Regions from separate parts of the Homo sapiens genome. Here region 1 is reported to be linked to region 2. Evidence: microRNA targets listed by miRTarBase, many of them from high-throughput screens and not tested one by one. Region 2 holds a microRNA gene; the other region holds the end of a gene's coding sequence.

Region 1 (3,000 bases), not on the chromosome of region 2:
TCTCAAAACAGTGGCTAATGATGCAATGAAAAGAGGTTGGTACAAAGGAGAGCCCAGGGTGAGGGAGAGAGCATTGAGTTTAGGCCAAGGGGTCCAGAGGCTACTTCTGGGAACTTGGGGCCTGATATTCCCGGGGATAGCCTAAGAACAGTGTGTTTCCTGATATTCCCGGGGATAGCCTAAGAACAGTGTGTTTCCTGATATTCCCGGGGATAGCCTAAGAACAGTGTGTTTCCTGATATTCCCGGGGATAGCCTAAGAACAGTGTGTTTCATGAACGACAAGGGTGTCAGTGTGTTAGGAAATGCTGCCAGCTGTGTTCGGACTTCTGTGTCTCACCCAGGACCTGAGCGAGGCCATGAGTATGGGGGAGCTGCAGCGGGAGCTGGGTCTACAGGCTATCGATAACCAGCGGGAGGTTTTCCTCTTGGCAGCCAGCATTGCCCCTGCAGGACCCACCTTTGAAGAGCCTGGCACCGTGCACATCTGGAAACTGCTCTTGGAGCTCCTCTCCTAGGCTGGAGCTCTCCTGCTTGCCACCTGCCTGTCAAGACCATAGTTGTACTGCTGCTGCTTCATTGCCAGACTGGGCCTGGGGCAAGAGCCACATGGCAGCATTTCCCTTTTCCCCTCCTTTGCCTTTCAAGAGCAGGGCCTGGGCAAGGCCAAGAACCATGCAGAAGCCTTCCTGGTGAGGTGGCCGTGAAGCCGAAGCAGGGAGGTGGGTGAGACAGAGGGTGGGGAGGATAGTGTCTGGCTCATTCCAGGCTGGAATGTGGATCCAGCTTTCCCTTCTCTTACCTGTACAGTGAGATGCTCAGTGGGCTCAATCCTCCACTACAGGTCCCGGTACCTGAGGAACCAGTGTAGGTGTCAGAAATACTCCTAGAGCCTCAAGGTCTCCCAGTCCAGAAACAGTCTGGTGACGTCATGCCCTTCTCATGTGGGCAGCTTCTGAGTGGTGACACAGCAAGCCTTTGTTCCTGTCCTGCATTGTCCAGCCCCAGCTCCACCTAAGTGACTTGTGGCCTTGTGCAATCTCTGCCTCTCTGACCCCAGGGCCATTATTTTTAAAGGGAGGTGGTTTCCTAATTCGGAGATGCCTTTCCCAGCCATGGGAGTGTGAAGTGCTAGGATGAACCTGGCCATCCTAGCAAGGAGCTTTCTGAAGACCTCCCTGCCTTTCCCTGAGCCCAGGCCTGGCCTGCCAGCCTCTCTTGACTACAGAATAACTGATATTCACCCACCAAACAGAAAAAGTGAAGGCTGGGTTTTTCCCCTCTAATCTGGAGACAAGCTGCTGCTCTCGTACTAACTGTGCCAGTGCCCATGTTTACAGAAGTCAGGGGAAGGAAGGAGCCTGTGTCCCTGGGACGACAGTCAACTGGAGCTAGGTGTTGACCTCAGAACTGCATTTTATTTATTAATTTATAAGCAGAACAGGCCAGAGTTCTAGGCTCTGTTTCTAGGTGCTGTTTTCAAAACCCCAGATGACAGTCATAGAAAATTTGGAACTTAGGAAAATAGCTGGAATCATGAATGACAATGAGATAACATACAGATGTCAGTGGAGACAAAGTTGTGGGTTCCTCCTCCCACCTGGCTTTGAGGCTGTCGTCGATATCATAGTACTTTACATGGATTCACATGAACTGAAACGCCACCACTTGGCCCAGGATGTTGAAAGGGTGCAAATTCCTTCTGGGTAGATAAGAAATGACTCTGGGAGAGGATTTCCCTTATGTGAATCTAGGTAAAAAGATGGAAAAAAATTGTATTATGTGATCCTAAGGACAGGAATAGCAGACCAGCCAACGGGATGGCCTTGGGTACATCACTCAGCCTTTCTGGACCCAATTTTTCCCCAGTGAAAGCCAAGTTGGACTGAATTTCTGGAGTTCTCATCAGTGCACATTCCATAGTTCTCCAGTGCTTGGCGATCAGCCCAATTGAAGGACTGGCTCTGTACTGACACTTATTATCGGTACAGGCAAAGAGGAGCCTGTTGTCTGTTAGGGACCACTAAATCAACAACCACAAATGGATTTTTTTTTTAAGAGGAGCTGTGCACCTCAATTTGCTGTCTAGTTGAGAATAGAGATTGTGTGCCTTCATTTCATTTGACATTTACCCAGCATGCCTCAGTTCCACACCGTGACCAGTGTAAGAAGAGGAACTATGATAAAAACAGTTCAACAAGCCGCAAGGAGGGTGGGAAATTCTGAAGTCCAGAAGCGAGTGTGATCTTTGGAATAGTGGCTGCTGTGCCCTTGGGCGCCATTTGAAGAATCACTGTTCTTGAAAGTGCTGGTTCACTTTCTGCAGTAAGAAGTGATTTATGGGCTTTTATGTAAAATTTTAAGAATGACTTGGGTTTCAGAGTAGCCTTTGAAACTTTGCTGGCAGCTTTTCATTTTGTCATTGGAAGGCTAAGAGACTTTTCTCCTTTGTTCTATGAACTCCTTGTTCTTCAGGGCTTGAAGGCAAAAAAACCTTAGACAACTTTAACGAAGTTTAAAAAGTATGTTCTGTTTTTGAGCAGAAAAAAGATTCGTGAACTGGTTAGTACTTAGCACCAAAAGCAGTTCAGAATGCTCAGCCCCACAATGTGTGTAGGCTACATTTATAGCCAGAGAAACGAAAATAACTTAGGTTGCCTGATTGGCTGCAGTCTGGCATTTGCCTTACCTGAACATGTTTTAGCAGCCTTCAGCCGACGATTGACTGAAGGTTTGGCTGCTGTGATTGGCTAAAATTCGGCTACTTGTTAGAAGAACATACTTTTAGGTTAGGTTACGAGTTGTTTACACGTTAAGTTACAATTCACTGTGTACAGAGGCAGCTTTAGGCCAGACTTAATTCAGCTTCACAGTGTCCCTCATTTTGCTCAGCCCCTTAATTTTGAGAGATTGACCAAAATCCCACGCACTGACACTACCTTCTGTCACTATTTGACCTCATTATGGAACTCACAGTTTACAATGTTAAATCAGTTAGCGG
Region 2 (3,242 bases):
CTTCCACTTATTTCTCGGAATAGACCTTTTTCTGCAGGAAGGGTGTAGTTGATTCAACCCTCACCCACTCATGCCAACCGTAGTGAGTGCTGTGACTGCAGCTGCACTGTTTATCCTGTTTTCTGCAGGTAATTTTTCCAGTGTACCATTCCAACCTGCAAAACCTCACATTTAAATGCAAATTTCTTGGTAAGCTGTGAAATGTTGGCTGTGGCTAATATGAGAAACAAGCTATTATAGACAAGATGAATCTCAGTTGCAGTGATAAATGTCACATGGGACAAAACCACAGATACTTTCACAAAAACCTTGAGGACCCTAGAAGGGCCTCCCTAGTAACAGGTGGGATGCGCATCCGCTCTTGTTGCCATAGTGAGTGATGCCTGTTCGTCCAGCCCTCAACACCTTTCACTCCGTGGAAGTTATGCCTGCACTGGTTTACAGAACCTCCCTTGACTTGACTTGAGGTAGAGTTGAAGGGAACCTCAGTGTCCCTTGCAGATGGGATGTGCATTGCTTCGCAAGAGCACAGAGGTGGAGTGCATGGGCTTTGAGTTTTTATTGGGTAAATGAAGCTGAAATACAGGGTGTATGACCACGTTATCAACGCACACTTGATTTAGGTTTTGTATTTTAGAGACGGGGGTGTGAGCTGCCAAAGCAAGGACTTATGTGTAGGAATTATTCTTTCTGTGAGCATACAGTATATGGAACTTTCTTTCTTTTGAGACAGGGTCTCAAAAATATATGATGTATGGCCAGGTGCGGTGGATCACGCCTGTAATCCCAGCAGTTTGGGAGGCCGAGGCGGGTGGATAACCTGAGATCAGGAGGGCGAGACCAGACTGGCCAACATGGTGAAACCATGTCTCTGCTAAAAATACAAAAAATTAGCCAGGGCTGGTGGCGCACGCCTGTAGTCTCAGCTACTCCGGAGGGTGAGGCAGGAGACTATCACTTTGAGTGTGTGTCTTTGTGTGTGTGTGTGTGTGTGTGTGTGTGTGTGTATGTGTTTCTAGTTTTTACAAGACACAGCCTGACTATATCACCGAGGCTGGAGTGCAGTGGTGCAATGTTGGCTCACTGCAACCTCCACCTGCCACCGCAGCCTCCTGAATTAGTGTCTACAGGTATGCACCACCACACCTGGCTCACTTTTGTATTTTTTGTACAGATGAAGCTTCACCATGTTGCCCAGGCTTGTCTGGAACTCTTGAGCTCAAGTGATCCTCTCACTTCGGCGTCCTGAAGTGCTGGGGTTAGAGATGTGAGCCACCGCACCCAACAGGTACTTGTGTATTTTTTTATTGAGGAGCTTTTACAGCGTAGCCTGTGGTCTCTCCTGGAGGATGTTTGTGTGTGCGACAATGTACATTCTTCAACATCTTAGATTCCATTTTGGATGCCCCCATGGGTACTACATGTGCCTATACTGGAACTCAAGTGAACACTTGGCTCAAAATCCATTGCTGTTCTCTAGAAATTCAGTTCGATTCTCTTGGTTAAAGATAAGGTATGAGTAGTAGGCATTGCTTTTTCTCTTTGGGGGCAAAACTCAGGAGGATTGCCCCTTGATGAACAAGGCTAACCTGCTGAGCCTTTGAAAGAAGGAACTGGAGATGGTCCTTTTAGGGGGTTTATATTCTGGATTCCAGAAAACATGCAAACAGGGCCAGGAAAAATGCATCTTTATTTTTGTGTCCATTTAAACCTGGTCAAGGAAAATTCCAACAATAAACCCAGAGTGCTGGAGCAAGAAGATCTCAGGCTGTGACCCTCCAGAGGGAAGTACTTTCTGTTGTCTGAGAGAAAAGAAAGTGCTTCCCTTTGGACTGTTTCGGTTTGAGTAAAGCAGCGTTGAAGTTGATGCTGATCTTGGTAATACATTTGCAGAGCACGCTCATCATCAGACTCGGATGATGTTGGGGTTCTGATTTTGTTTTTCTCCAAGACAGGGTCTCTGTTGCCCAGGCTGGAGTGCAGTGGCAGTTCCAACCTAGCTCTCCTGGGCCCAAGAGACCCTCTATTTATTTATTTATTTATTTATTTATTTATTTATTTATTTATTCATTCATTCATTTAGAGATGGAATCTGGCTCTGTGACCCAGGCTGGAGTGCAGTAGGACAATCTCCACTCACTGCAACCTCCATCTCCCAGGTTCCAGCAGTTCTGCCACCTCAGCCTCCCATGTAGCTGGGATTACAGGCGCCCACCACCATGTCATGCTAATTTTTGTATTTTTAGCAGAGATGGGGTTACACCATGTTTGCTGGGCTGTTCTCAACTCCTGACTTCAAGTGATTTGCCTCCCTGGCTTCCCAAAGTGCTGGTATTACAGGCGTGAGCCACTGTGTCCGGCCTCAAGTGGTCTTCCTGAGTCAGCCTCCCAAGTAGTTGGGATTACATGGGGCGTGACACAACACTTGGTTCAGCTTTTAATTTTTGGTAGAGATGGGGTCTCTGTTGCTCAGGACGGTCTCAACTCCTGAGCTCAAGCGATCCTACAGGTGTGAGCCACCTTGTCCTGATGACCCATTTCAAAGATAGTTGACTTGGCCAGGCATCATGGGGCACACAGTCCCAGTTACTGCAGGGGCCGGGGCGGGAGGGTGCTTTGATTTTAAGGCTATACCGTGCACAGATCCCACCTTTGAATAGCCACTGCACTCCAGCCTGGGCCAACATAGCAAGATCCCATTTCTTTAAAAACAGATTACATAGCACCTGGTCCCACAGATTTCATTTGGGTTGGTCATGTCATACAATGGCCTCCCATCAATTTAGTATAATCAATCCAAACCATGGTTCCTTCATTAAGAGAGTGGGTAATCCTCCAAGTCCATCCAGTCTATTCTGTAATCCCCAGTGGGTGTCCGTATTGATACAATTTCTTTTTGTTCCTGTTCACTCGTGTCTTTTTAGTGTAATCTGCTTGTCCGTAACACTGAAATTTGTTTTTCCCCAACATCTTGCCATCATTTCTCGGAATAGACCTGCTTTCTCTGCAGGAAGGGTGTAGTTGATTCAACCCTCACCCACTAATGCCAACCCCAGTGAGTTCTTTGACTGTAGCTGCCATGTTTATCCTATTTTCTTTGGGTAACGATTCCAAGGTACCATTCCAATGGGCTTAAACCTTGCATCTAAATGCCAGTTACTTGCTAAGATGTCAAATGTGTCTTATATTAGCTGTGGCTAATATAAGAAACTGTTGTAGACAAGATGAATCTCAGTCACAGT

What was found. Region 2 holds the annotated microRNA hsa-miR-520a-3p (AAAGUGCUUCCCUUUGGACUGU, at 1,815-1,836, shown strand). A microRNA usually pairs through its seed, bases 2 to 8, with sites in the 3' UTR of a target mRNA and lowers its output. Matches are read on the target gene's strand: a 7mer-m8 pairs with bases 2 to 8, a 7mer-A1 pairs with bases 2 to 7 and ends in A, and an 8mer does both.
Region 1: miRTarBase lists ARL10 as a target of hsa-miR-520a-3p. The part of its 3' UTR that is shown has no 7-base or 8-base seed match.

Annotation. Positions count from the first base shown.
Region 1 is chr5:176,371,379-176,374,378 of GRCh38, forward strand. ARL10 (ARF like GTPase 10) reads left to right here. Exons shown (of 4, transcript NM_173664.6): 4 at 344-3,000. The coding sequence ends at 517. Among named protein-coding and RNA genes, the nearest start is that of MIR1271, 4.9 kb to the left of the region's middle.
Region 2 is chr19:53,689,119-53,692,360 of GRCh38, forward strand. It overlaps MIR520A (microRNA 520a), which reads left to right and starts at 1,763; the gene lies at 1,763-1,847. All of the region lies in intron 2 of LOC107985342 (a long non-coding RNA gene), which reads left to right.